2 linked regions of the Homo sapiens genome follow. The protein of the gene in region 1 purifies or fractionates together with the protein of each later gene. This does not show direct contact. Each region holds a gene or a part of one and is shown on either strand. Other genes may lie near its edges.

What was found.
Region 2: the proteins of SLC25A14 (region 1) and SDF4 purify together in Homo sapiens (affinity purification with mass spectrometry; 2 studies listed by BioGRID and IntAct, with this or other methods). This does not show direct contact.

What each region holds. Positions count from the first base shown.
Region 1 is NC_000023.11:130,332,994-130,348,106, forward strand, and holds the start of SLC25A14 (brain mitochondrial carrier protein 1 isoform 1 precursor), read left to right. Parts: upstream 1-6,925; 5' UTR 6,926-6,969; coding exon of another isoform or gene 6,970-6,983; intron 6,984-7,113; 5' UTR 7,114-7,285; coding exon 7,286-7,360; coding exon of another isoform or gene 7,361-7,387; intron 7,388-12,188; coding exon 12,189-12,282; intron 12,283-13,550; coding exon 13,551-13,698; intron 13,699-15,113. UniProt on the Homo sapiens protein: Transports inorganic anions (sulfate, sulfite, thiosulfate and phosphate) and, to a lesser extent, a variety of dicarboxylates (e.g. malonate, malate and citramalate) and, even more so, aspartate and glutamate and tricarboxylates.
Region 2 is NC_000001.11:1,228,873-1,243,748, forward strand, and holds the start of SDF4 (45 kDa calcium-binding protein isoform 2 precursor), read right to left. Parts: upstream 3,130-14,876; 5' UTR 3,020-3,129; exon of another isoform or gene 2,635-3,019; intron 75-2,634; 5' UTR 1-74. Other genes in the region: B3GALT6 (beta-1,3-galactosyltransferase 6 precursor), read left to right, coding at 3,407-4,396; C1QTNF12 (adipolin), read right to left, coding at 13,676-13,774, 13,963-14,041, 14,190-14,280, 14,572-14,680. UniProt on the Homo sapiens protein: May regulate calcium-dependent activities in the endoplasmic reticulum lumen or post-ER compartment. Isoform 5 may be involved in the exocytosis of zymogens by pancreatic acini.

The sequences.
Region 1 (15,113 bases):
GGCTGTGATGAAACAATGCTGCCACTCTGGAAAACAGTTTGGCAGTTCTTTAAACAGTTGAACATAGAATTACCATATGATCCAGCAATTGCTCTCCTAGGTATATACCCCTAAAAATCGAAAGCAAAGACTCAAACAGATTCTTGTACACCAGTGTTCATAACATGTATAGTAGCCAAAATGTGGAAACAACCCAAATATTATCTATAGAAAGAGTAGATAAACAAAACGTGCTCTGTACATATAATGGAATATGACTCAGCCTTAATAAGGAGATTCTGATACAGGGCACAACGTAGATGAACCTTGAAAACATTATGTTAATCGAAATAGGCCAGACACGAACGGACAAATGTTGTATGATTTCACTTAAATGAGGTACCAAGAATAGGCAAATTCATAGAGAAAGTAGAATAGTAGTGACCAAGGGCTGGGAGAGGGGAGAGGGGAAGTGATTAATAGGCTTCTGTTTGGGAAAATGAAACATTTCTGGAAATAGATAATGGTGATGGTTGCACAACATTGGGAATGTACTTAATGCCATAGAATTGTATGCTTAAAAATGGTTAAAATGGTAAATTTTATGTAATGTCCTTTTTTTTTTTTTTTTTGAGACAGGGTCTCACTCTGTTGCCCAGATTGGAGTGCAGTGGCACGATCTCAGATCACTGCAACCTCCGCCTCCCAGGTTCGAGTGATTCTCCTGCCTCAGCCTTCTGAGTAGCTGCAACTACAGACATGCACCACCATTCCTGGCTAATTTTGTAGTTTTAGTAAAGATGGGGTTTCACCATGTTGGTCAGGCTGGTCTTGAACTCCTGACCTTAAGTGATCCACTTGCCTCGGCCTCCCAAAGTGCTGGGATTACAGGTATGAGCCACTGCTCCTGGCTGTAATGTACATTTTTCTATAGTGAAACAACAATGGGCAAGGTGTGGTGGCTCATGCCTGTAATCCCAGCACTTTAGGAGACCAAGGCAGATGGATCACCTGAGGTCAGGAGTTCGAGACCAGCCTGGCCAACATTGTGAAACCCTGTCTCTACTAAAAATACAAAAATTAGCCTGACATGGTGGCACACGCTTGTAATCCCAGCTACTCAGGAGGCTGAGGCAGGAGAATCGCTTGAACCTGGGAGGTGGAAGTTACAGTGAGCTGAGATCACGCCACTGGGCTCCAGCCTGGGTGATGGAGTGATACTCTGTCTCAAAAAAATGAAAAATTAAAAAAAAAACAACAACAACGATAACAAAAGGAGCCAAAATTACCCTCTATCTCATAGACTGCTGGGCTTACGTGAGATAATTTGCATGAAGTGCTTAGCACAGTGCCAGGATCATAGGGAATACTCAGTAAAGGAAAGATAAATGTTTTTCTAATAATGTAGAACTATTTAACTATAGAATGACCTTCTTTGGGGGTGGAATAGTGAGCTCCCTGCTACTGGAAGCGTTTAACAGGGGGCAGAACAGACTTCTTAAAGTTTCATATGCAAAGAAATCATCTGGACATAGTGTTAAAATGGAGATTCTTATTTAAATAGAGTCTGGCTGAGGCCTGAGAGTCTACATTTTTAGCAAGGTCCAGGTGATATTGATGTTGCCAGTTGAGTGCACTTGAGTAGCAGGAGGCTAGATGATTCCTTAGGGGGATGCTGGAGAAGCTATGTGATAATTCATCAGATGGAGCAATGAGATAGATCTCTGCGGCCTACTGCGGGAGCCACTCACCACATGTGGTTATTGAGCATTTGAAATGTGGCTAGTCCAAATTGAGATGTGCTGTGAATGTAAAATACACAAAAATGTAGTATGGAATAGACTAAAATATTTACTTAGTAATTTTTATATTGATTACATGCTGAAGTGATATTTTTGGATGTATTGGGCTAAACACAATATTCAGAATATATATACATATATATATATGTATATATATATTATTTTTGAGGGGGAGTCTTGCTCTGTCGCCTGGGCTGGAGTTCAGTGGCATGATCTTGGCTCACTGCAACCTCTGCCTCCCGGGTTCAAGCCATTCTCCTGCCTCAGCCTCCCAAGTAGCTGGGATTACAGGCACCCACCACCACACCTGGCTAACTTTTTTTTTAATTTTTAGTAGAGATGGATTTTCACAATGTTGGCCAGGCTAGTCTTGAACAACTAACTCAAGTGATCTGCCCGCCTTGGCCTTCCAAAGTTCTGGGATTACAGGCATGAGCCAAAGAATATTAATATTGGGATCGCTTGAGCCCAGAAGTTTGAGACCAGCCTGGGCAACATAGGGAGACACCGTTTCTACAAAATAAAAAATAAAAGCCTAGTCGAGTATGGTGGTGCATGGCTATGGTCTCAGCCACTCAGGAGGCTGAGGTAGAGACTTACTCGGACCCAGGAGGTTGATGCTGCAGTGAGCCATGATAGTGCCATTGCTCTCCAGCCTGGGTGACAGAGATAGACCCTGTCTCAAAAAAAAAAAAAAAAACAACAATGTTTAAAGGGCTATTAATGGAAGGAGATCAAGCAGAATCTAGAGGGTGACACAGGGTTAGAAGATTTTCTTTTTGTGGTAACCTGGGAAGAATATGAAGCTGATAGGAAAGATAAATGGAGAGGGAAGGTGGCTCTCCAGGAGCAGCAAGGAGGAGTGAGTGAGGTCTGCAAGGAGGCATAGGTAAGACTAGGTTCATGCAATATTTACATAAACATATAAAAGATGGAAAAATGTTAATGCTGGTATCTGGGTAGTGGGGATGACGCTTACATTTTACTTACTTTTGTGTGTGTGTGTGTGTGTGTGTGTGTACTGTTTGTTTTTTTGAGACGGAGTCTCACTCTGTTGCCCAGACTGGAGTGCAGTGGTTCGATCTTGGCTCACTGCAACTGCTGCCTCCCGAGTTCAAGCGGTTTTCCTGCCTCAGCCTCCTGAGTAGCTGGGATCACAGGCGTGTGCCACCATGCTCGGCTATTTTTTGTATTTTTAGTAGAGACGGGGTTTCGCCATGTTGGCCAGGCTGGTCTCAAACTCCTGACCTCAGGCCTGCCTCAGCTTCCCAAAGTGCTAGGATTAAAGGTGTGAGCCACTGCGCCCAACCTCTTTTGTGTTTTTATCTTTATTTGTGTGTGTTTAAAATTTTTCTTTTGTGTTTTCCTTTCCCCTCCATGAAGATGCATCACTTTAAAATTGAGGCCAGGCGGGGGAGTATTACTTATTATGAAAACAAAAGCAGAAAATCTGCTTCCCGATGTAGGAGGACCATAAGTTAGGGATAGCCAGCCCACTGACTCCAGCACACAAGGACATAAGGCCACCCTCCAGAAGCACATGACATGAACACACCTATCTCAAGAATTATAGGATAAGCATGTGTGTATGCATGGTGAGGACTAGAAGGAGGCTTTTGACTATCAAGAGTAGCAGTGGATGTTTGGATTTCAGGTAATTGCTACCTTCCTTCCACTTTTGTGTATAGTTTAGTGATTTATAATAACTATGTATTTTTTATAATCAGAAAAAATAGTAAAGCTATTGTAATGTTGAAAACTATATATAGTCTTCACCAAAGAAATTAATAGTCCCAATGTACACTGCACTGATAAAATCACATCTTAGGCTCTCATTCTCCTACTGGCCCGGAAGAACCAGTGGCCATATTGTGAGCTGTCTGTGGAAAGGGTCACGTTGCAGGAAAACAGGGGCAGCCTCAGCAGCTGAGAGTGGCCTCTGGACAACAGCCAGAAAGAAACTGAAGCCCTCAGTGCTACAGGTGCAAGGAAATAAATTCTGCAACAATCTGGGTGAGCGTGGAAGTGGATTTTCACTCAGTCAAGTCTTAAGATAAAAATACAAGTCTGGCCGACACCTTGATTGCAGCCTTGTGAGATCCCAGAGCACAGGACCCAGTGAAGTCATGCCTGGACTCTTGATCTACAGAAACTGTGAGACAGTACATGTGTGTTGTTCTAAGCTGCTGAATTTGTGGCAAATTTTTAATGCAGCATAGAAAATTAACACACACTCCTACTAGCAGTATGTGAGAATTTGAGATACTTTACATCCTTGCCAATCCTCAGTCCTTTTAACTTTGGCCACGCTGGTGGGTGTGTATTGTGATTTTAATTTTAATTTTCCTGATGAATAATAATGTTGAACACTTTTTAATATGCTTATTGGTTATTGGATATACTCTCTTATGAAGTGCCCCGCAAGCATTTTTCCCATTAAAAATTTGAGTAGCCTATCATTTTATTACTGTTTTAGGAGTTCTTTACATATACTGGATATGAAATTTTGTAGGATACATGGATTAAAAATCTACCATTGTGGGGCTTGCGTTTTCACTCTTCTTAATGGTGACTTCTTTTTTCTGGGGGGTGGGGGGGATGGAGTCTCACTCTTGTCGCCCAGGCTGGAGTGCAGTGGCGCAATCTCGGCTCAATGCAACCTCCGCCTCCCAGGTTCAAGCGATTCTCCTGCCTCAGCTTTCCGAGTAGCTGGGATCACAGGCGTACGCCACCACACCTGGTTAATTTTTGTATATTTAGTAGAGACGGGGTTTCACCATGTTGGCCAGGCTGATCTCGAACTCATGACCTCAGGTGATCCACCCGTCTCGGCCTCCCAAAGTGCTGGGATTACAGGCGTGAGCTCCTGTGCCCAGCCAAAAAAAATTTGAGGCTGGAGCACAGTGGCGCGATCACAGCTCACTGCAGCCTTGACCTCCCGGTCTCAAGTGATTCTCCCACTTCAGCCTCCGGAGTAACTGCGACTACAGTCGTGGCTAATTTTTAAATTTTTGGTAGAGGCGGGTGTTTCCTTATATTGCCCAGGCTGGTCTCGACCTCCTGGGCTCAAATGATGTTCCTGCCTCGGCTTCCCAACTATAGTATAGATGAGAGCAACATAGCATAGTGGTTAAGAGCAATCCCAGCTCTGCCATTTTCTAAATTACTCTCCTAACCTTTTATGGCCTGTGTTCTCAACCGTCAAAGGGGAAAAATAATAGTACCTGTCTTATAGGGTAGTTAGGAACACAAAAAGCTCTTGGCATCACCCTTGGTACATGGTAGGTACTGCACAATGTCAGCTAATATTATCGTCATGTGTGCTGCCTGGAGAAATTTTTAAGTGGAAAACAAAACAAACAAACAAAAACACAGGCCAGACGAGGTGGCTCACGCCTTTAATCCCAGCACTTTGAGGGGCCAAGGCGGGTGGATCACCTGAGGCCAGGAGTTGGCGATCAGCATGGCCAACATGGCGAAACCCCGTCTCTACTAAAAATACAAAAATTAGCTGGGTGTGGTAGCAGGCACCTGTAATCCCAGCTACTCAGGAGGCTGAGGCAGGAGAATCGCTTGAACCTGGGAGGTGGAGGTTGCAGTGAGCCGAGATCGCACCACTGCACTCCAGCCTGGACCACAAAGTGAGACTCTGTCCAAAAAAAAACAAACAAAACCCAACAAAATAAAACAAGGTGAACTAAAATGAGAAATATCCTTTTGGAAGAACATAGTTCCAAATATTTATTCATTCAACAAATAACCATTTAGGGCCAACTTGCACTGACTTTTCCTTATAACACATAAGCAATAAACCCTATTATTGCGTACTCTCGCGTGATTAGGGAACGTTGTTAAGAGGCTCAAAAATCGGACGTCATAGCTCAAAAATCGGACGTCATAGCACATTGGCTAATGGAATCACCCAGGGGCTTTGCGGTTTCCCCTTCCAGCAGCCAGAGGGGCCAGAGTCGGAAGCTGGGGGTCGGACTCTTGGCATCTTCTGGTGGATTATGAGGTTTGGATTAACTGGGATTTCCCGTTGGTGTTTTTCTGCCTCATCTGTTTAGCTTTTTGTGGTCCCCTTTTTGGTATCCAACTTGCTCTTTCTTAAGTGAAGTTTCTGATTAAAGCAAGAGCTTCGAGTAAGGGGTCTGACCGTAATTTTTCACTGGTTAATGTCTGACGTCCAGTAGGTGCTGTCTGGATCATTCTCCGTCCCTCCCTCCCTTCTTTCCCTCCCCCCCTTCCTTTCTCTCCCTTTCTCTTTTCTTTCTCTCTCTCCCTCCCTCCTTCCTTTCTCTTTCTCTCTCTCTCTCTTTCTCTCCTTTCTTGGATGGAGTCTTGCTTTGTCACCCAGGCTAGAGGGCAGTGGCGTGATCTCAGCTCACTGCAACCTCCACCTCCGGGGTTCAAGTGACTCTCCTGCCTCAGCCTCCCGAGTAGCTGGGACCACAGGTGCGTGCCACCACACCCAGCTAATTTTTTTGCATTTTTACTAGAGACGGGATTTCACCATGTTGGCCAGGCTGGTCTCAAAACTCCTGGCATCAAGTGATGCGCCCGGACCCTCAAAGTGTTGAGATTACAGGCGTGAGCCACCGCGCCTGGCCTTGAACTTTATTTTCTCATTGAGCCCAGGCACCTCACTAAATTCGGCTCACCCCTATGTCTCACTTTCCTACTTTTGTTTTGAAGCCTTTGCCCCACCCCCTCCACGTTGCCGCCTTTTTCGTACTGAGCGCGCAGGGCACTACGCCCACCACTCCCCTTGACCCACTCCTCAAGCCCTGATACCGGGGCGAGGCCCCTTCCTTTTCTAGTCCTTCTACGCGCCAGGTGGGTGGGTTTCGCGGTGACGAGGCGACACCTCTTTCCCCTCTGGCGAGCACGTTAACTGGGGAAGCTACCAAATTCTCACGCCTTAGCTGCCCTGCCTCCACCTCCCGCAAGTCCGGTTGCCCCTCTAGGCTTCTGCGCCTGCAGTGGTTCCGACCCTCGCCTTTAGAACTCTGCCGCTTCCGCCTCTTATTTCGCGCCTTTGTTTTTAGTTTTGGAAGGGGCGGAGTTGAAATGGCTGCGCCGCGGTTGCCGAAGCAACGCTTTGGTTACTTCCGTTGGTTTCAATGCTTCCGGGTTGGCGCTGCAGTGGCGTTTCCGACTGTGGGAGCCTCAGCTTCCCAGTCGTCCGATGAGCCCGAGCAGGTGAGGGGGAGCTCCTGGACTTCCAGGCTGGGGAGCGGGGCTGGGCCGCGCCAGGCCGCGCGGGGCCGGGCTGGCCTGGTTCCCGGCCTGGGAGGGGCTTAACGGTCCTCTGGTCTCTCTCTCCCCTCAGCTGAGTCCCTTCCCTGTCTTTCACTCTTCTGGCATCGGTGGTTTTACTTCTTCGATTGAACCCTGCTTCCTCGACCCCCCTGGGAGGCCGCCTTCTTCAGGCGCCTCCCTTCTCTCCACGAGCTCGCTCTGACAGCTGAGGAACTGGCAAGATCCTGCTACCCAGAGGGTGAATGGGTATCTTTCCCGGAATAATCCTAATTTTTCTAAGGGTGAAGTTTGCAACGGCGGCCGTGATTGTAAGCGGAGTAAGCAAACACCTCCATTGTATTAGTGTAAGGGATACTGTTGAAAGATGCTCCCCTTCGGTTTCTACCCCCTGTCACTCCTGAGGTCAAGGCATTGAAGGCATCTATTAAAATGCAGTTCAGTTACTTGATTGGCATGACAGCTGTTATCAACATGAATTAGTTTCTCAGACAGGATAACAGCAGGGACATTTATGGTTTCCTGTCAGTGATTCCTTGTTGTTGTTGTTTTTCCCCCCAGCCTAGAGATGCCTAGCGTTATCATGAACTCTTCCCTCGTCTTCATTCCCTACATCATCGAGTTCTTTGTGTCTTCATTGGGGAAGTCTATCTCTAACCTCAGTGCCAACAAGCATCTTTGTCTGCTGTACTTTGCACCATCCTAAGCTAGTCTCCCTGCCTCTCCCGTTTGTAATGTAATCCACTGTGTTTGCTGCAGCCCTAATAGGCTAAAATGTGGTGGATTTCCTCAAGTCACTTCGTTGTTAAACACACACACACAAAACATGCAGCCCCCTCCTACACCCCCTACCCCCACCCCTTGGTTTCAAGCCTTTCAACATAACATGCTCCTTATCACACTTCTTGTCTGATACTGTTTCAGTCAACAAGGGAATTCTCTGTTCCAGTTAGGTTCCTTTCTTCTTGGCACAAACCATACTGATGCCTGCTTCTACATGCTGTGCTTGTTCCCACATTTGTGTTTCTGTTCATTCTCTCTTCCCTGCCCCTCTCCCTTACCTGCACCTAACCAGGTTGTACCTACCGTCTCTCAAGGTTCAATTTAGGTTCTCTCACCTCGGCAATTTTCAAATTAGTCAATCCCATGCTGGTTGTAGTCTTTTCTATGCTCCTCTTGCTCTTAAAGTTTGTACTACACAGTTTAGTACTTAATTTTTCTCTAACGCACTACTTTGATTTCTTCCACCAGATTATAAGCTCTTGAAAGGCAAGTACTGTATTTCGTACTTTTTTCTCTGTCCCATCTCATTGGTTATTCAGAAAAGACAGGTTGAGTGGTAAATATTGTCTTGGTGCTAGAACGAATATCTGTGTTTTTCAAATATGATTATACCCAAAGTGCATTGCAGGTTTGGGCATTTAGCATGCCTTCAATAAATATCTGCTTGGCTCTCCATTGTTACCTTCTGAATCTGAGAATCTCTAATTTCTACTCTTTCTTAAAGGAGAAAGCAGGAGAGGCACCCAGAGTTTCCTGACCAGATCTTGGGAGTAGTATAGGGCAATGTAACTTGTATTGTAGGACATTCTTACTTTCACTCATTAGTCTATCAAATTCTCCGAAGTCAGATCTTCAGAATAAATGTTGGCATTTTGAAGACAATTTTCATTGGTTTCTTTATACAGTAAAAATATTTAGGGTACTATATTTTTATTTTACCTTAGATATGACTACTTTTACGCATATTTGGGGTTAGCCCCTACAAGTTAAAATAATTTTTAGAGGGCTTGGGGTATTTTACATAAGTAATTCCTTGGAACAAAAGCAAGGGAACAGGGTTCGCAGGCAGAGAATATCTGGGGATCAAGATAGTGTCATACACAGGGTGTGTAGCATTGGCCAGGTCCAGCAAGTTACCTTCCTTGTTTCCTCTGCAATCTTTTATATACAGGCTGCATACATAGGTAAAGGATGTCACACTGCAAAACCAACTAAGTATTGAATGGATATGTATTCAATTCTATGCAAGCTATAATGGGGGTTATAAAAAGTACTGTGAGATATAGTATCTTCCCTTGGGGATCTTACTTAGTTAAGAGAGGAAATAACATTGGACATCTTGAAGTTGACCCTCATCCTAGTCATTATTTTTATGCCTGAGATTAAGATATAGAAGGGATAAAAGAAGGTTCAAAAAATATTGCACACCTGTAGAATAGGTGTGACACAACACGCATGCATGTAGACAACTTTATGTAAAAGACTTGGAGGTTTCAGCTGACAGTTTAATGATTTGATAGTGTGATGTGGCTCCCAAAAAAGTGAGTGCAATTTTAAGCTCTAGTAATTGAAGTATAATGTGTCAAATGAAGAGAAAGATCATGGATATTTAGCTCAAGAAACATGAGATGTAAGAGAACATCATAGCTGTCTTTAAATATTTGAAGGGCTTGCCTAGGGAAAAAAGAATGCATTTGTTGAATATTACCTCCAAAGACTGGGTACAAATTAGAGGAAGACAGACTTTTGGCTCAATATGAGGAGGGAGTGTCTAAAAACAGATCTAATCAAATATGATCCAGGATTTCTTCATAAGATTTTTTCCTAACATTGGAGTGAAAGAGATTTTACTATCAGATGGGGGTAGGGAAGTCGTGATTGTGGCAATGGTGGGTTTTGCCTGTGGTCTCCAGATTTTTGGATTTCATGGGCCAGTAAAATGTAAATGAAAATGTGGGAAGGGTACACAAATACAGGCTAGTTAGCCTGTGCTCCAGGCGTAAGAAGAATCTGATCTGTTAATAATAGACAGTCCCTAAATTAAATACATTTAGCTGAAAAAAAAAAAAAGGACTAAGTGTCCTTATTTTTTTCATTTCGCCCCAGAATTGTGGGAACTTCATTAGGGAACCACTGGGCTAACTGGCCTAAGATTCAGCGACTGGTCTTTCATCTTCCTGCCATGTCCTCCCTGTTCCTTGCCTTTCACTGATTCATCATTGCTCCCTGAGCACATTTTCCTTATTAAAGGGCTGGTAGCAGCTTGTGAAGTTCCGATAGAGGCTTTCTCTGTAATACAAAGAGTTGAAAAAAGTTGTAAGGAGAAAAAGTTTTGGAGAGACAACTTTAAGTAAAAGTAGCTGTCTGAAACCTTTAAGACTATTTGGGGCAATCGATAAATTTGTGAATGGAGAGTTAATTTTTTCCTCACAAACTCAAAGAGGGGATATGCCATGGTCTTGCTTTTCCATCTCTACTCTCACCATATGTGTCATATTTTACTATCAATTCTAATTGGAAAATGTGGGCATAGCTAGAAATGGTGATAAGGTAGTATTTAGTCTTCAAGACTCCTATTTCCAGCTGCAGTTGATACTTGAAGTGGCTATTCCTACTTTGCTCATTAGAATTCTTTTCAACAACTTTCCCTCAAAAGGGCTATCTATCCCAGACTCTATATGTGCTATGCTTGAAAGGAAGCCTCCATAATGATTTTTGTGGCCTGTAACTAAAACATTTAATCAGCGTGTTTGCTATCTTCTCTGGAAAATTGTATTTTGCTTAGTTACAGAGAATTCCTTATGTGGAAACAAAGCAAAACCTTCAAAGGGATACTGTGACTCATAGCTGCTAACCCCAGACTGGGCAATGGGAGGGAGGGGTGGGCAGCAAGTAATATCTGTTAAGATGTAAATTTGGGTACTTAAATTTTTAAAAATGTAATAATGATAGTTAACTAACAATTATTGAGCTACATGCCAGGCACTTTTAAAGGTGTTTTTCATATATTATTTAATTTTCACAACAACCCTATGATATAGTTTTTATTATTAGTTCCATTTTACAGTTCAGAAAGTGGAGGCATAGAGAGATTAACTTGCCCAAGGTCACAGAACTAGTAAGTGGTGGAGTCAGGAAATGAATCTGGAGTTAGCATTTAAATTTTAACAGTCTGACTTCAGGAGTCTGCATTCCTCACCATAAACCACTTGGAAGTTGCTTTTGAAATTCAGAAGTATACATACTGTGAAGCTCTGAAAAAGGAATATTTGAAAGAAATCTGAGAGTCCATGCTAAGAACAGATACTACTTTCAGATGGACCAGGATTTAGTAGGCAATGCCTAGAGCAGTTCTTAAGTGTGGAAGTATCAGCGTTATTTGGGATCTTGCAAATTCTCAGGGCCATACCACCAATCAGAAACTCTGGGGGAGAGGCCCAACAATCTATGTTTTAATAGACCTTCTAGATGATTCTAATACATGCTAAAATTTGCAAAACCTAGAGGCCAGAGCTCTGGAAAAAATAAAATCCAAGAGAGAGCAAGCTGACAGTGGCAGAAAAAGAGAGTAAAGCTGAAAAGATTGATGATGACAGGTCTAACGGGGGTGGGATAGGGAAGGAGAAAAGGGAGGCTGGGAGCAGAATACGTTGTTAAAGAACTAGAACATAAAAGAAGAACAGTATTTATATGTGTGTGTTTTAAAAGGCCAAGAGGAAGGAAAAGGAGATCCACTAGATGGATGTACGTTAAATGTCAGAGGGAAGATAGACATCATATTGCTATCATTCCTTTGGGCGCTAGAAGGAAGGTGAAAAAGTTCTTAGCTCAGCCTGGGCCTAGTTGGGGGGACAAAGTTATATATAGCTAGAAACCCTATAGTAGAGAGATAGGAGGGCTAAGAATATGAGAGAGTAGTAGTGTGAGCCTGTGCTTTGCACCTGAATCAAGCTAACTGAATACCATGAACTGCTTTTATGAGATGCCTCAGCCTATATAATTTGAATTCCGGGTTCCTTCATTTGTAATTATCTAGTTGAATGTCAAAGTTGGGTGTGCTGGATGGACTGAAGCCTCTTCTCTGGGTGGGGATGAATATAACATTAAAGAAACTGGAGAGAATGAAGGGCACAGGTTGATCTCTGAGTGAATCACACGCCTACCCCTACAAAATGTCAGTAAAGAACAAACTCATGATCATCCAGCACATAAAACAGGATCCCCCATTTTTGTGTCATTCCACTTGGTGGGGTTTTTCTTCTACATCTATTTTATTTGCCAATTTTGTTTATCTAAATTATATGATCAGATGCTAACAAATGCTCCTCACTCTTGTGCCTTGTTCTGATTTGTGTTTATTTTTAGCACCAGAAAAGTACCACTGTAAGTCATGAGATGTCTGGTCTGAATTGGAAACCCTTTGTATATGGCGGCCTTGCCTCTATCGTGGCTGAGTTTGGTAAGAATGTGAGAAATGACAAATCTGCATTATACGGTATAGATGGTAGCTTATGATGATGGTTATTTTTGGTGAAAGCTAGGTAAAAAATAAGAAGCTCGCCTTATTTTGAAAATTGTCTCAAAGCCATGAAGTAATATTTCAGGGAAAGTACTACTGATGGTATGGCAGATGAGTTAAGAAAAGTCAAACTAAGGAAAGCTTTTTTGGTAGTTTAGTGATTTGTTAGTTTGCTAGGCTTAAGTAAAATACATGAATATATAGAGGGAGTTGATATGTCATAAGGGTTTTTGCTATATTTCTGTATTAATAGTCTTTTATGCTAAATTATTTATAAGTTTATTTGTACTGAAAGTCCTTTTTTTCAAACCTCTTTCCCATTTTAGAAGAAAATGTACTAACAAGATCAAACAAGATTCTCTTCTACATGATTTTGATTTTGAAATATTTTTAGATTGTCGTTTTTTTCATCTTCCAGATGTTCTCTTTTCTAAACTATTCATGAGTGACTACTGACGTTCTTGGCATATCCTGTGGTGTTGTGATATTTGGGTCATCAGTGACCAGAGCTACCTAATCACCTTGTTAGTTTTACACCCTGAAATATATTTTGTCAATGTGATGACCACTTCTGTTTGTTGATGTAAGAGGTTTGGTTAAAGAAATTTCCCCCCCAAACACTCTGCTGGTATTAGTCCTGAATTACCTAAGGGACCAGGATGAGTAGAACCAAATAAGACTTTGCCATTATCTTTCATAATATTAGGGGACTATTTGTTTCTTGTAAACAGATAAAAGAAAAACCCCACAAAACTTTGTAACACTATATAAGAGCATCTGGAGCAGCAATCCCATGCTTTCCTATCTTTGTGAAAATTTAGGGAGATTTTATGAGACACAGAGGTGGGGAGACTTGGGGTGGGAAGGGGCAGGAGGGAGACTGATAAATGCCAGATTATATGTTACAGATGAAATAAAAAACAACATTTAATTATTTTGCATTTATAATAGGGCAATCTGAAAGCATTTTATTATATTACAGTTTGAAGTATATTGTGGGTCAATTGGTGCTGCCTATGTATAGTATAATGCATTTCACTTACCACATGCAACTCATGTTCTCTGACAGTGGTATTCTACTAGAGCTCTTCTATGTGTTATAAAAAGGACTTTGTCTTAGGATTCAAATATTGTCCTTGGCTTATATTTAGCAACAACTTAACTGTGATTCTTTGGACATACTTATAAATAAGTGTGTTCCTTTATAGGGACTTTCCCTGTGGACCTTACCAAAACACGACTTCAGGTTCAAGGCCAAAGCATTGATGCCCGTTTCAAAGAGATAAAATATAGAGGGATGTTCCATGCGCTGTTTCGCATCTGTAAAGAGGAAGGTGTATTGGCTCTCTATTCAGGGTGAGACTGGTTCTTTCCTTATATCATTAACAGAAATGCTTTTTAAAGAAGCCATAGTTTTCAGCTGTCTGATAGTTTGTGTCCGTTTCATATTCACCATTTCAACTTGTAATTCAGTATTGATATGCCAGTTTATATTTCTCCTGCTTGTAAGTCTTGAGCTTTGGATTTTGTGTTCATTTGGTTATAAGTGATAATAACATTTTAAAATGGATATGTCATTGCAGCATAGGCTTTCTGTGGATTTCCCGAGAGTCACTAATAGCCACTGTTAATAACAGCACCAATTAATTATATATATTTTTGTGATATCCCTCCTGAGTTGGCAAATTCTGACTTCCTTTAAAATTTTCCTCTTTGAAAAAATATTATTCTTGCAGTTTAAACAGAAAGTGCATAATGAGAGAGAGGGAGACCCATCTTTATCATCACCTTTTGATTAGCCATAATTTTGTGGTTTACTGTCTAGTTTGTAGTTTATCTGTTGCCAGTTTCCTAGGCCACTCCTGCATCTAGGCTACCAGTTTATTACTCAGAGAATAGACATCAATTTTATTGTTAAACTATGTTACATCGTTAAACTATGTTAGACTTAATTTAAAAGGTAATTTTCTTGGGGGAAAAATCAAGTAGTGTATCCTGAAGCATCCTGAAGATGATCCACCATCCTGATTTGTGGATCATCTGTTTCACCTTGTTCTTTCATCAGCATAGATCATCACAAGATATTTTCTGATAGCAAGCAATAAAGTCAGAAATATGCATATTTAGTCATCATTTAAAAATCCTAACCATTTGAGCTGCTGCTGTCTTTCTATTTATACCTCCTACAGTATAGTTCTGCAATTTGGAAGAATCCCAAAGGAGGTATGAATGAGAATGTCTCCAGTTTAAAGGAGAACTTAAATAGGGTGGAATTTTGGCTCTAGTACCTCCTTGTTGATGTGATTAAAGACGTATCTGCAACTGTTAGGAAGTAGAGGTTGATTTTTTTAAAAAAATCTTTATTAGGTGAGCAATGATGTATAATTCTTTTTATACATTGCTGGATTCAATTTACCAATATTTTCTTAAGGAGTTTTGCATCTAAGTTCATGAGAGACATTAGTCTGTGGTTTTCCTTTTTTGTACTGTTTTTGTCTGGTTTTGGTATCAGGGTAATACTAGCCAAAATTAGTTGGGAAGCATTCCCTCTTCTGTTTTCTGGAAGGAACTGTGTAAGCTTAGTGTTAATTTTTAAAATGTTTTGTAGAATTCCCCAGTGAAATTATCTGGGGCTATTTCTTTTTGGGGAACATTTAAATTCAGAGTGCAAATTCTTTAAGGTTATCATAGTTTGGGGTGCTATAACAAAATACCATAGACTGGGTGACTTATAAACAATCGGAATTTATTTCTCACAGTTCTGGAGGCAG
Region 2 (14,876 bases), on another chromosome or scaffold:
ATCCAATCCCCGGGCACCACGGAGGGCTCTGTGTCCCCAGGACGGCCGCAGGATGGGGACAAGCAGCTCACAGTCTGCAGAGAGACACAGACACATCATTAGCAAGACTCAGCAAAGACTTCCCCAAGCACGTCTATCCTGCAACATGAAACATATCCTCGATTCACAGGATCCAGACATGTGGCATCGCCTTCTCCAGACCACACGTGGCACTGCCTTCTCCAGACCACACGTGGCATTGTTTTCTCCGGGCCACACGTGGCATTTGTTTTCTCTGGACCACACGTGGCATTTGTTTTCTCCGGACCACACGTGGTGTTTTTTTCTTTATTTTTAGAAACAGGGTCTTGCTCTGTCACCCAGGCTGGAGTACAGCGGTGACCACAGCTCACCGTGACCACGAACTCCTGGGCTCAGGTGATGCTCTGGGCTCAGGTGATGCTCTCGCCTCAGCCACCGGAGCAGCTGCGACCACAGGCGTGCACCCCCACGCCCAGTAATTTATTTTTATTTTACTCTTTGTAGAGACGGGTCTCGCTGTATTGCTCAGGCTGGTCTCAAACTCCTGGCTTCAAGCGATCCTCTTGCCTCAGTCTCCCAACGTGCTGGGATTACAGGCGTGAGCCACTGTGCCCGGTCTTTTTTTTACAGACACTGAGTTTTCAGCCCTGTCTCTCCGTCTTTCCATCTCTCTCTCGAGCTGTCAGCACCTCCAGGGGCTAACCTGTCCCCATCGCCCAACACCTGCAGCACAGCTTTCCTGTGGGGCCCGGCTCTGTCCCTCCTGGCATCATGCCACTGACCCATGGGGTTAGGGTCACTCTCCAGACCCTGACTTGAACATTCTTGAGATCTATGACCTTAGCTAAGTCATGTGGCCTCCCCGGCCTCAGCTTCTCACTAAGAAACAGGAGGCTCCCCCTCTCCCCCCGACTGACCAGGCTTTGCGAAGACAGCCAACCCTAAGTGCAGAGGGCGTCAGGGCCTGGTCCCAGCAAACAAACACACAACCCCCACACACAGATGTGCACACACACATCCACACTCACGCATGCACGTATTACACACATGTGCCCTTGCCCACACTCGCGAGCGAACGCCAAGGCCGAGGAGCCCAGAAGTCTGTCCTGCCGTCCGAGGCGTGGCCAGTCCTGGTGGGAAGCAGGGGCTCACAGGGCCTCATGCCTCATGTATCCCAAAGGGAACTCGGGGTCCTTCTCACCCACGAGCCTACTCCTTTCACAGTCTGCCCCTCCGGCAAACACCTGCGGGTCCTTTCGGGTGCCGCTGAGGCCCCGCCATGTCACAGCTGTTCCCTCAACACACATGGACTGAGACTCCTGTTCTGTGGCCGTCTTATTCAGCTTCACTGTTCTGGCACCTGCCACTCTGCCTGCACACAGTAGGCGCTCAACGAATGCTACCCTGGGTAATATTAAACGAAAAAATGCTGCCTCCAGGTATCGAGAAACACCAGTGGGGCCGCCATGAAAGTGGTCCTGAAGTCAGTGCAGTCTGCCACAAACCAAGAGGGGTACAAGCCTGAGTTCCCCCAAGGAAGGAAACCCTGGGTGAGGGGCTCATGTCTGATTTTTTTTTTTTTTCTGAGACAGAGTCTCACTCTGTCGCCCAGGCTGGAGTGCAGTGGTGCAGTCTCGGCTCACTGCAACCTCCACCTCCCAGGTTCAAGTGATTCTCCTGCCTCGGCCTCCCAGTTAGCTGGGATTACAGGCACCCACCTCCACTCTCCACTAATCTGTATTTTTAGTAGAGATGGGGTTTTGCCATGTTGGCCAGGCTGGTCTCTAACTCCTGACCTGAAGTGATCCTCCTGCCTCGGCCTCCCAAAGTGCTGGGACTATAGGCGTGAGCCATGCACCCGGCCTGATTTTCTGAACATGGCTGAGGGCTTTTCCCTTCCCTAGTGGTGGCATAATTCTATTCCTGTCGTCCCAGATCGCCTGACCAGGGGAGAGTCCTGGATAAGAACCAAGACACCTCCTCCTGGTGCTGACTCCACTAACTACAGTCGTAAAACACACGCTGTGTGCAAAGAGACTGTACTTTGTTCCTAGAGAAAATAAAGCTAGTTCTTGATTCTACATATCTTGATGAGTTACACGGTTTACTTGAGGCAGGAGGATCGTGAGACCAGCCTGGGCAACACAGTGAGACTGCGTCTCTTTAAAAAACAAAAACAAAAAGATAAGACCCTGTCTCGAAAAAGGGGGAATAAAAAGTAACCCAAAAGTAACTATAAATATCAGGAGTCCATCAAGTGGCGCTTCCTCTCCTGGCTTCAGAGTATCTATTCATCACGGTGTGCCAGGTTCGCAGCACAGCGGAGCGGGCCGGTCCCACCGGAATGGGGTTTCGACTTCGCCATCCCCTAGCAGCTCAGTTCCCAGCAAGGAATCAACACACCCTTGCAAAACGGACGTGGGAAACAGCTTAGGCAGAGACGCTATTTCTTTGCCATCCCTGGGCTTCAGCTCTGGTGGAACGAGGCTATTTCTGGCAGTTAACAACACACACGGTTAGATTCTAAAAGCTCAACAGGGTTCATAACACCGCCTCTGAGCCAGACATCAAGGGCTCCACACAGCCGACTTCACATCTCCAAATCCTACTAACTGGGGATGAGGGTCCACGCGGTTCAGAAGCGGAAGCGCAGGCGCAGGGAAGCGGGGCAGCTTGTCCAAGGTCGCCTCGCCGATAAACGCGAGTCCAACCAGACCCCTTGGGCCTCCGTTTCCCGGTGGCATTCGTAGGTTTTGGCCAGTAGGAGACCAGACGTGCCGGCGGCCGGGGAGGCCAGCGTCGTCGGCCTGTCCCTGCCCCCGGGAACCCCGGGAGCCCCGGTGGCGGCGGAGTCTCGCCAGGGCTCAAGGCCGAGCGGACGGACGATGCCCCAGCCCAAGGCGGGAGGCGGCGGCGGCCTCCAGACCCGCCCTCGCCGTCCGGCCGGCGTACACTTGGCCCCGCGGCCTGCAGCGGCCGTCCCGGGCCCCTCACTCACCGGTCTGCCTCCCCGCGCTCGGGATCCGAGGACCGGAGCGAAGCGTCAGTGACGCCGCCAACGGGCCCGGATCAGGCCACTGCCATCTTTCTTGCGGGCGGGGGCGGTGCGAACGGGCGCGACCTCACGGAGGGGACGCCGGCGCCACCATCTCTCCTCCGGGCGGAAGCGGTCGCGGGGCCGCTCCGAGGTTGACCAATGACAAGGGTGCCCGAGGCCACGTGACGGCCGCCGATTGGCCGCCGGCCTCCGAGCGCCCCGGGGCTCGGCGTCTGCGGAAGGCCCCGGCGCGCTCCCAGGAGCGCCGTGCGCACGCGCACCGCCCCGAGCCGGCGGCGCCTGCGCACTCGCGAGTCCGGCCTGGGCCGCCGGCCCGGCGCGGGCGCCATGAAGCTGCTGCGGCGGGCGTGGCGGCGGCGGGCGGCGCTAGGCCTGGGCACGCTGGCGCTGTGCGGGGCGGCGCTGCTCTACCTGGCGCGCTGCGCGGCCGAGCCCGGGGACCCCAGGGCGATGTCGGGCCGCAGCCCGCCTCCCCCCGCGCCCGCGCGCGCCGCCGCCTTCCTGGCAGTGCTGGTGGCCAGCGCGCCCCGCGCCGCCGAGCGCCGCAGCGTGATCCGCAGCACGTGGCTTGCGCGGCGCGGGGCCCCGGGCGACGTGTGGGCGCGCTTTGCCGTGGGCACGGCCGGCCTGGGCGCCGAGGAGCGGCGCGCCCTGGAGCGGGAGCAGGCGCGGCACGGGGACCTGCTGCTGCTGCCCGCGCTGCGCGACGCCTACGAAAACCTCACGGCCAAGGTGCTGGCCATGCTGGCCTGGCTGGACGAGCACGTGGCCTTCGAGTTCGTGCTCAAGGCGGACGACGACTCCTTCGCGCGGCTGGACGCGCTGCTGGCCGAGCTGCGCGCCCGCGAGCCCGCGCGCCGCCGCCGCCTCTACTGGGGCTTCTTCTCGGGCCGCGGCCGCGTCAAGCCGGGGGGGCGCTGGCGCGAGGCCGCCTGGCAACTCTGCGACTACTACCTGCCCTACGCGCTGGGCGGCGGCTACGTGCTCTCGGCCGACCTGGTGCACTACCTGCGCCTCAGCCGCGACTACCTGCGCGCCTGGCACAGCGAGGACGTGTCTCTGGGCGCCTGGCTGGCGCCGGTGGACGTCCAGCGGGAGCACGACCCGCGCTTCGACACCGAATACCGGTCCCGCGGCTGCAGCAACCAGTACCTGGTGACGCACAAGCAGAGCCTGGAGGACATGCTGGAGAAGCACGCGACGCTGGCGCGCGAGGGCCGCCTGTGCAAGCGCGAGGTGCAGCTGCGCCTGTCCTACGTGTACGACTGGTCCGCGCCGCCCTCGCAGTGCTGCCAGAGAAGGGAGGGCATCCCCTGAGCCGCCGCGGCCCGGCCCTCCGGGACACCTGCTTCACCCGGCGGCGCCTTGGGGCAGGTGCCGAGCGGGCGCACTACGCCCGGGCCCCAAGGCCCCCGTCCCGCAGCCACGCTTGTGGTCGCTGCGTCCCGGTCTGCGTTTGGGAGACCCCTGGGGGTTGCCGGGGCAGCGCGCCGTGTCCAGGTGGAGGTGCCCGTTCCTGGACCTCAGCGAGCCTGAGCCGGGCCCGGCCGCACGCTGACCCCCGTGCTGTCCCCGACCGGCTCACGGGGCTGGGCTCCGATCTTCCGTGTCTCTTATCAGTGGCGTTTCTCACGTCTGCGTCTCAGATCTAACGTGGTTTCACATCAATCCGCTTTCATGGGATTTTGGTCTCTGTCCAGTGACTTCGTGGTAAATGTAACTCAGTGTTTGCTTGCGACTTATTTATAAATATTGTAAGTTTGTGTCGATGAGTGTAAGTTGGCAGTGCGCACGTCTCGGTTTTTTTACATGATTTAAGGAAAGACTTTTATGTCAGAACTTGGTGCCTGTACCGTCAACCCCGCTGCTGCCCGTGTTTAAACGCAGGAGAACTTTAAAACTGGCCATCTATCTTTTCAGTGTACAAGTCACTGAACCCATTGTTTCTTTCTGAAGAGACTTTCCTTTCAAGGCTTCCCATGGGTCCGCGCCACACAGGGCCGGTGCTGCTTTATTTCAGACTCTGCCCCAGGTTCCAGGAATCCGAACCCCGGAGTGCTGACGCGGTTCCCCAACTTCCGCCTTAAGAAAACAGGACCAGCCGGCACCAGGCCCGTCTCTCACGTACTTTAACACATCCTTGAAAGCCCCTCGTTTAATGAGAAAAGCGAACACTGCGGTCCTTGCCAAAGTAAAATGAAGCTGCCCCAGGACAAGGGGTTACCATGAGCTCCCTGGAGTCCGACGCGGGTTTTCTCTCTGGGGGACCTGGGTGGTCCCCGCTGTGGTCTTTGTTGTCCCACTTTGGGACCGGGTCCAGTCTGGGGTCTAGTCTCGAGCATCAGGGTCAGGCTCGGGGCAGGGCTGGGTTAGGCTCCGGGTCAGTCTTGCCATGGGTTTGGGAGCAGGTTTGGGTTACTTGCGTTTGAAGGCAGCAGTGGTCTCAGGAGGAAGAAACGGGGGCGGGAGAGAGTGGTGATCTGTGGTCAGTGGGTCAGTGACCTGCACGGTGATTCTCCCACCTCCAAAAGGTAGGGGTGGGACTGGAGGCGTCCCTAGGTCAGGCCGTTGAGTTCGAGCTCCGATGGGCCACCTTGAATCCAGGACTGACCGCCCGTGTGTGCACAGTTTGTTCTTGGACGAGGACTCGTGAGGATCGAGGGCTGGGGACCCCGGTGTGAGCAGGATGGGGCCCTGCCCTCCCGTGGGAGTTGTGGACTCGAGCCCAGGGGCTGCCCGTCACAGCGGTGTCCCAGGTCCCTGCCATCCGATTTTACCTGGGATGTCTTCTCTGGAGTTTGGAATTGCTTGAGGAACCCTGCGTGTGCTTGGAGAGGCCAGAGGGCTTGCTGAGAACCCCATGGACAGTGGAGAGCGGGATTCGAACCAAGGGCTGGACTCCCACACCTCTGGCCTGCGTCGCCCAGTTCTTTGTGGCTCTGAAGAATTGGCCGCTGTGGAAAAGAGCAAATGTCCGAGACCCCCAACAGGAAGAGTCTAAAAATCCAGTTTGCAACCACTTCTGACCTACAAAAAAATGGAAATTTAGTGTTTTTCAGCCTAAGACATTAAATTTCATATCAGAACAAAGCCTGCCCCAGGCTGACCCTCCCCAGCCGTACCGTGGTGAACGGGTTCAGAGGATACGTGGGCTGAAGGCTGGGCCTCGGGAGGGCTGGGGGCTTCCAGAGCCGGGGCAGCTGCAGCTCTCTCTGGTCTCACCTGGAACTTGCCCTGTAGATCCTCCCTGCCCTGCGGCTCCAATCGACCGTGCACGGGCCGTGGCATCCGTCCCCCAGGCGTCCTTCCCTGGTCTTAGCTTGTACAGCTCCCCACCCACCCAGGTACTCGGTTCCCGGAGACCAGGGCCAAACCAGGAGGCCCTCGGGAGATGGGGGGTCACCGAATTCATTTCCATGTGGGAACTTGGGATACAAAACAGCCAACTCTTCCTCAGCCACACGGATGTTTCTCCTCTAGTGGCCCCGAGAACCTACCATGGAGGGGACAGTGTCAGGGCTGGACGGGCACGGCGCAGCCACACGCACACAGCCCCCAGGAGGCACAGGGCCGGCAGGGAATGCAGGTCAAGCCAAGAGGATGGGCTCTGGTCCCTTCAGGATCCCCCAGGAGGAGAGCACCCCCTTCTGCCCTCTTCCTGGGGACTATGGTCCTGCCTCTCTGCCCCCTGAGGCTGGCATGCAGGCACCTGACGTTGGCTCCAGCTCTCTGGGCCAGCCCTGGGTACCCGCCGGGCCTGTGGCCTGGTTGGTCACCCCCAAGATGCAAAGTGCTACCTGCATCCGGAGGCACCCCCGCCCCTGAGGCCTCCAGGTTCCCACCTGCCCACCTGTGTCTGGCTGGGATCCTGGCTGTCAAGGCTCCTGTTACGGGACTGAACTGTGCCCCCTAAAAGATATTCCAAGCCCTAACCCAGCAGCTACAAACTGACCTTGTCTGGAAGTCGGGTCTCTGCAGGTGGAATTGCGTTAAGGCAAGGTCCTGAGGTGGCCTTACTCCCACGGAACTGGTGTCCTTACCAGAAAAGACCTGGGAAAAAGCCACTGTGTGGCTAGAGACTGACACCCAGGCGATGCCTCTGCAGGCCAAGGATTGAGGACCCTCCACCCCCACCCCACCAGGCAAGGAAGGGCTCTACCCAGAGTCAGGAGCGTGGCCTCCAGGGCTGCGAGGGAAGACGCCCCGTCCAGCAGCCCCAGGATGCCAGCCCAGTTCCCTGTGCCCGGCGCTCTTCGGTGCAGACGCAGGCAGGGGCTCCTGCAACCTTGTGGCATCACAGACGCCCAGCACTGACTGGGCCCAGATCTCCTCCCCGCAGGGCTCAGCACACACCCTGTTCCCGGCAGGCCTCCATCAGTCCAGCCTGCAGCAGGGCTGCCCCCGCGGCCTGGGTCACCCCAGACTCTTCCACCCTCTCCCTGGCTGACTGTCCCAGCTCAGAGTCCTCAGGTCTAAGGGGGTCACGGCCCTCCTGTGGCCCCACCGGCCCCAGGCTCCCCAGCTGTGGCACTGTGAGACCAGCTGACGTTGCAGGAATGGAAGCCCCAGCGGCCCAGACGGCTTGGGGAGTCCTCGGGAGCAGGTGGCCAGAGACAGGTGCGTGCCAGGCCCTCCGCACCCAGAGCGGGGCCGGGAGGAGAGAGGAGGCCCCTTGTTCGCGCAAGGCCCTGCTTCCTGGGCCCACAGCAGCCTGTCAGAAGTTTCCAGCTCCTTGGACTGGCTGTGTGGGGCCTGCTCCCTGGTTTCAGGGGCCTGGGAAGGGCTTGGCGCTTTTTCCTGGTTTCCTACTCTGAGGTGAGCTGGCGTCTCCCTCTCCCACTGTGGGCTGAGGGGAAAGACCTCTGTGTCCATCCCACAGGCCTGGCCAATCTCTGGGGTCCTCAAAGAGGAGGCTTTTGAGGGGGCACAGCCCAAACCCCTGGGCCTCCCCTTGAGGTCTCCTCCCAGCCCCCACCCAGAGGACCTTCCCACAGCCTTGGGAGCTGAAACCCAGGCCACCCCATCAAGTTGGCCTCTGTGGGTGTACACACTCCTTTCCCTCAGGGCCAGGGTGGGTCCCCACCCCCAGCACTCACAGCCCCTCCTTCTCTGGCCTCCCTGCCCTCCGCACCCTCCCTGCTAGATGCTGGTGCCGCTAGCCCTGCCCTGATGGCCACACTGCACCACGCTGGCCAGGTCAGAACCACCCGAGGAGAAGAACCAAGATCTGGCCCCACCCTGTCCTCCTCGGAAGGTCTCTCTGGGGCCCACCCCCTCCTCCCTCCCCAAGGATCTGAGCCTCCCTCACCGAGGTTCCCAGTGGAGGTAGACAGTGGATGAGTGATCCCAGGAGAGCTGGCTGCAGCCAAGGGGCTGAAGGGAGGTGGAGGCGGGAGGGGCAGGAAGGAGGATCTGGAAGGCCCCAGGCGCTCCCCACCCATCCAGCCTCGGCCTCTGTCCTGGTCGCGTTGCCCAGCGAGGCCTCTCCTTGGGCTGGGGCTCGGGTACTCTGCCCTGGTCGGGGCCACAGATGCCGCAAAGTCCCCTCAACTCAGCTAGCCAGGGTGCAAGACCGCGCCCACAGCTGAGAAGCCAGGGGTTACGAGTGTGGCCCTGCCAGGACCTCCTCAGCTGCATCCTCCAGAGTAAACACAGGTGGCCGCAGATCTTCCAGGGCCGGCCGGGCAGGCAGGACAGGAGCCCAGGAGGGCCGCAGTCCAGCTCCCCTCCCCGCTGACCCAGGGCCGGACCCAGCCCGGTGACTGGAGCAGAAGGAAACCCAAGCCCCAGGCCCTCCCTCCGGTGGCATCCGAAGGTCTCAGCGGCCCCAGCCTCCCCCAGGGGCCCCGCACCCGCCACCGCCCACCTCAGACCGGAGAGAGAGTGAGGGATGGGCAGAGCCAGGCCCAAGTCCCCGCCGGGGCGACGGTCACGGTGCCTCACCCTCAACCGCCTCACCCAGACCTTCCGACCCAGGAACAGCTGAACTCAGCCTAAAAAGCACCCGTCCCGAGGGCCTGAGTCCGGCCGTGGTGCCTCCTGCTGCAGAGATGTGTTTTGCACACTCCTGTGTGGCAGGGAGAGGCCCGGGCGTGCGGGCTGGGGGCCCAAGGGGTCTGGAGACGCTTCCCTGCGGAGACGGGGTTTGCCCAGCCCCCACCTGTCACGCTTCTCGTCACCCCCAAGTGAGGGCCGTGGGCGCGGGCGGGGTGGGCAGGAGGCCCTGCTGGGCTGGGTCACACGCATGACACCTGGCTGTCGCAACACAGATATCATCACGCCCGGGCACCCGTGAGTCACTGGCCCAGAGCAGGGGCTGCCCCCAGCCTCCCAAACAAAGACCCTTTGTCCCCAGGCCTCTGGTGCCAGGCCCACCTGTACAGCAGTCAGATGCGCAGGCGGACAGACACGCCGGTGGCTCGGCAGGCACAGGCAGGGCCAGGGCGTGTTCCCGCAACCAGACACGCTGCCATTCCTGGGTCAGGGTCAGGCTGAGGGAGACCCCTGGGGGACAGGCCCTGAGGTCACCATAGCTCAGAGTGACCTGAACTGGGAGTCCAAGCACAGACTGGCCAAGCCCAGCCCGTGAGCGACGGCCCCAGGACGCGGCGCCGAGCTCTGCCCCCAGCTCCAGCTCCCAGCGGCGTCGGAGCACAGCAGATCCCAGGGCAGCGCTCTGCAGGCAGGAAAGAGCTTCCCCTTGGGACAGCGCGCTGAGCAGCCCCCAGCTGAGGGTGGGAGCCCCGTCCCTGGACCCCTTCACGCAGTTCAGGGAGCCCCACATGCCGAAGCAGCCGTCACAGCTCCATGGGCCCCTCTGCTGTCCCTGGCAGGACCGAAGCTATGTGGCCTCCCGGACGCCAGGGACCCCGGCCACGCCCGCTCCAGGCACTGAGTGGCCAGCCAAGCGCTCGGGCCCGGGGTCCTGGACGGCTGTTCTGGGTTTGTTCTCAAGGGGGCCGTGCTGCTGGCTCTGTAGAGAGTCCCAGTCCCAGGGCAGAGACCCACACAGATGTGCAGACACGTGGGCACACACGCACCAGTCGCAGGGACACACAACTGTCAACCCGGGGTCAACACGGGGCACCTGGGTACATAGATTTTTACAAAGCAGGGCAGGCAGGTCTGTTTGGACCCTACACAGCCCCTACATGCCCCCAGGCCATTCTTGTTCCAAGGCCCAGATGACAGTGGTCACCAGGTGTGGTGTGGTCTGGGGTCTGGGACAGGCCCCAGGAACGCCCTGGGCTTACTCCAGAGAGGCTGGCAGGCAGTCCGAGGGGCCTTTGGAGCAGACACCCTCCCAGCTGCAGGGCGGCAGGGGCGGCAGGGGTGACAGAGGCGGGGAGAAGGATGCGAAGACAAGATGCCAAAGCTGGGCCTCCAGCGCCTGCCTGTCCTGGCTGCAGCCCCAGGGTCCACACCCAGGCGCCCCCAGGGGCCAGGCCAGGGCAGCCGCATCTCCTACGTACCCCAACAGTGGGGCCCTTGAGGCACCGGGGACGGATGGGCAATGGTGTCCACACCTGACAGGCGGGGCCGGAGCGGGGCCCAGCCTCCTCCTCACAGCCAGGAGCCCCCAGCCCTGCCTCCCCTGGCTCCTGCTGCCCCCTCAGGGTGGCTGCCGCACCTGGCCCCAAGAGGACTTCCTGGCTGCCCTGAGCTCCCGTCCGCATTTCTGTCCATTCAAGACCAGGACAGCACCAGGGCTGGGAATACTGGCTCCGACCCAGCCGAGGCAGCCCCGGGGCAGGGTGGGTCAGGCAGGTCCAGCGCTGGGACTCTAGGGAAGGGCTGGTCCTGTGAGCAGACGAGCTGGAGGGTTGGTGGGGGGAGTGTCCCCGCACCGGGCATGGCCCCTCCCAGGATGGCAGGGAGCCCACGGCAGGAGTGTCCGATGCCCCCAGCCCCGGCCAGGCAGCAGGGTCGGCCTGCGGTTCTGGGAAGTCAGCCCTGGTGGAGGTCACGGAGAAGCCGGCAGCTCCCTGCCGCTCAGGGCATGGGGTCAAGGGTCAGGGGTCAGGGGTCGGGTTGAGGCCGTCCGGCACGTAGCCGGCTGCTCTGGCTTTGCTCCTGCCAGGGTCCACGAAGCTGCCAGACGCTTGGGACACTCAATACCCCAGCTCCCAAACCGGGGGGCACAGGCCTGAAGAGATCCGTTTCCCTGGGCTCCCCAGGTCCCCCAGCCAGCCCAGACCCCAAGCAACAGCAGCTCTGGCTGGCCTGCACCTGCCCCGGGGACCCCACGCTCCGGCTGGGTGAGTGACAGGCATCTCCCACCCTCGTCAAGAGTCCAGGGTCCCTTCTATGGCAAACATTGCAGTGTGGGTCCAGCCCAGGAGGTGAGGCTGAGAGAGAATGAAGGGGTGCAGCTGGGCTGGGCCAGAGGATGGAGCCTTGGCTGGGTGGGCTGGGAGCCTGGACCCTCCTGTGAGGCCGCCCACCCCACCCCGACCTGTCCATTCCTTTGCTCCTGGGTGCCCAGAGGGGGCTAGAGATGGCACATTCCAGGGGAATTGCGGCTAAGTGGCTGATCACCTCCCACTGGGGCAGAAACCAGGAGGCAGAGGCCAGGGAGGTGGTGCCAGCACCAGGACATCCCCACGCCCCCCATTCACCCTGGCCCCAGCCCCCCCCATTCACCCTGGCCCCCATGCCAGCCCCCAGCCACCCCCGACCAGCCCCCATCCCCCACCTCATTCACCCCGGCCGTGGTCCCTGCCCCAGCCCCCGCCGCCCCCATTCACCCGGGCCCTGGCCCCCAACTCATTCAGCCCCGGCCCCCCGCCCCACCACTCCACGTCTCTTTGTCTCTCATCACCATCTTGCTCTACGCGGCCCTGGGTCCCATTTCTGGCATGTCCATCTGTCATCACAGCTCCTACCTCCGGGACTGGGTAGGGTGGGGGACTGGCTGCTGCTGAAGAACCTAGAGGGCCCCCATTCCCGGATGGTGAGGCCCCAGGCGGTGTTCAGAAAGGCCTGGCTGGGTGCTGCCTGATCCTGGGTGCCTGCCCCCAGCCCGTTCTTGCCCAGGGTTGGCCCGTCAGTTTGGGGAGGAGCCACTGAAAACTGGAAGCAAACAGGGGAGTCCGCAGCCCAGGGCTCACGCCAACCAGGAAGGTGCAGGCCACGCTCCTGCCTCTGCCTCCTCAGGGCCCCCACACTGCTGTCCCCGCTGACCCAGCTCCAGGAGGGCCCGGCACAACCTTGGTTCCCCCTGTACAGATGCACAGCTGCCCGACTCTCTGGAAGGGAGCACTCTTGAGTGCTGTGGCCAAGCAGGGCAGGGGCTGCAGAAGGGAGACCCCCCGTTCCAGATCCAGGCCCCAGGGGGCAGGCCGTGCCCACAGAAGGGGTGCTGAGGGCAGAGAGGAGCCCCTAAGCCGGGGCCACAGCCTTGGCAAGTGAAGCAGAGGCCCCTCCAGACAGCCCCAGCCCCTGACGCCACTCTGGGGGGCCCAGGGAGAGAGGTGGGGACGGGTCACCACCCAAGCCCACCTCGTGCCGATTGGCGCCTGCCCACACACCTCGTCGCAGGGCTGGGCTGTCCCGCCTCACTGCCCAGCAAGCCTTGGGGAGGGCCCCTTCTGTGCCAGCCCCGGCAGCTCCAGGTCCCAGGGGAGGGGTAACAGCCGTGGGCTCTGGCCTCTTCCAACCTCCCCAACCCCACCAGCGACTAAGGGCTCTGGATGCCAACCAGAGATGGCATCTCCGCAGCTCAGCAGAGGCCTGGACGTCCTGAGGCCAGTTTACACTCTTTGGTGTGGGTTTGCCAGAGCCAAAATGGGGTGGGGGTGGGGCCCAAATCCACAGGACCTGCCAGGGAGCAGCAGCATGATGGTCACATATGGGGCCCACCCCACCCTCCATGGGGCAGTTCTGGCCCCTAAGGCCCCCGAGAGGCCCTGGTCATTAGAGTGCGGCCATACCGAGAGCAGGCGAGGAGAAGCCTGCTGGTTCCAGCCCTGCTCCACCTGGGTGCCCCGGGCACGGCACGGTCTGGGCGCACCTGAGCCCGCAGGGGTGCCTTTCAGCTCCACACGCCTGCGGCGGCCAGCACATGCAAGCACGCGGTCCCGTGTGTGGCATGCACGTCCTCTTGCCCTGCACAGAGCCCCCCACAGGACGCAGGCCTCCCGAGGGCCCAGAACAGTGCTGCTCTCCAACCTCTGGGGCTTCCAGTGCCCCACGGCCTGCTGCTCCCCCAAGGCTGGACAGGCCGTGGGCAGAGCTGAGTGGGGCCGGCACGGACAGTGGTCCTTGTCCTCAGGGTCGACGTGGCCCCTGCAGGGGCTACCAGGGCAGCGCCCAGCCTCTTGCCATCACCATAATCCCGGGCCAGGTAAGTCGGCCCCGAGGGAGGCTCTACGGCCCATACCCCAAGCTACCGGGCTCCCCTGTGAACAGCACCCTTCTGCCCCCACCCATCTCCCGCCGACCTCGGCAGCCTGGCTTCCACCCCCAGTGAAACATCCAGGCAGCACTCGAAGGCAGTGGGGAGGGTGGAGGGCTCTTTATTGTGGTGACCACGGGCATCAGTAGGAGGGTCCCCGGGATCCGGCGGCAGCTCCTCGCCAGCCCCCCTGGGCGCCCTCACGTGCCCAGGAGCAGCCCGGAGAAGCTGGAGCCCGCCTGGATGGTGAGGACGGCCCCGGAGCCATTGTCCACAAACACAGAAGCGTACTGTCCAGCCTGTAAGAAGCACGGGGACGTCACAACCGCAGCCACAGCCCAGCCACTCGGTGGCCAACGTCTGCCCACCTGCCCTGCGCTAGGAGGTGCCGAGGCCCCAGAGGTCTGCGCCCTGAGTGCACCGAGCTCACACCCGGCCCAGCCCGAGTGCACCCGAGCCCTCCCGCTCACACCCGGCCCGGACTCACCTGCAGCTGCAGCAGCCCCTGCACCTGTAGCGTGAAGACCCTGCTGTTGCTCTCCAGGCCTGAGACGGCCTCCAGGCACCTGAACACAGCCCCACAGGGCAAGAGGGAGGCGTTGCAGGTCCAGGGGGCCAAGACCTGCTCCAGTGCCCAGAGACCCCTGTGGCCTGTGAGCCCCTCCAAGGGTGGTCCGGGGGCTGCCGCCTGGAGCGGGGGCTGAGGTCACTCACGTGTGGCGCTGGCACAGGGACTCAATACAGATGAGAACACACACCACGTCCCGGGCCCGCAGCCGGGCCTTGCCCTGCAGCTCACTGTGGTCTGCGGAGAGAGCCCTGGGGAGGGTGGTGCATGGGGGGCGGGGTGGGGGCTGGTGGGGAGGGGCTTCAGGGCACACATCCCAGGACAGGCCCAGGAGTGGCTGCTGGGGCTGGGGAGGGGGCGCCTGAGGCCAGGCGTGCAGCAGGGACCCCATGCCCAGTCCAAGGCCCCCCATGGGGCAGGGGATAGGTCCCTAACAGGACCCGCACCCGGGGCCGGCGATGCCAGGCGCCCCCAGAAAGCTCAGCCCCAGCCCCGTCACAGCACACGGCACTGCCCCATCCGGCTCACCCACGTGCAGACTGGCAGAGAACTGGAAGATGCCGGACACGGGGGCCGTGAACCGACCCGAGGCCAGGCTCAGACCGGAGCCTCGCAGGAAGGCACCTTGGGCAGCAGGCTGTGAGGGGCAGTGGGTGAGCGGCCAGCGCAGGGCCTGGCCCCCACCCCACAGACCCCGCCTGGGGAAGGTGCCTGCAACCGACAGCCCCTCACTCGGAGCAGCTCTCCCGGGACCCTCACGCTCACTGTGGGCACCAGCAGGACTGACCCTCGAGTCCACACCCAGGAGGGTCTCCCTGCCTCCCGGCTACCGG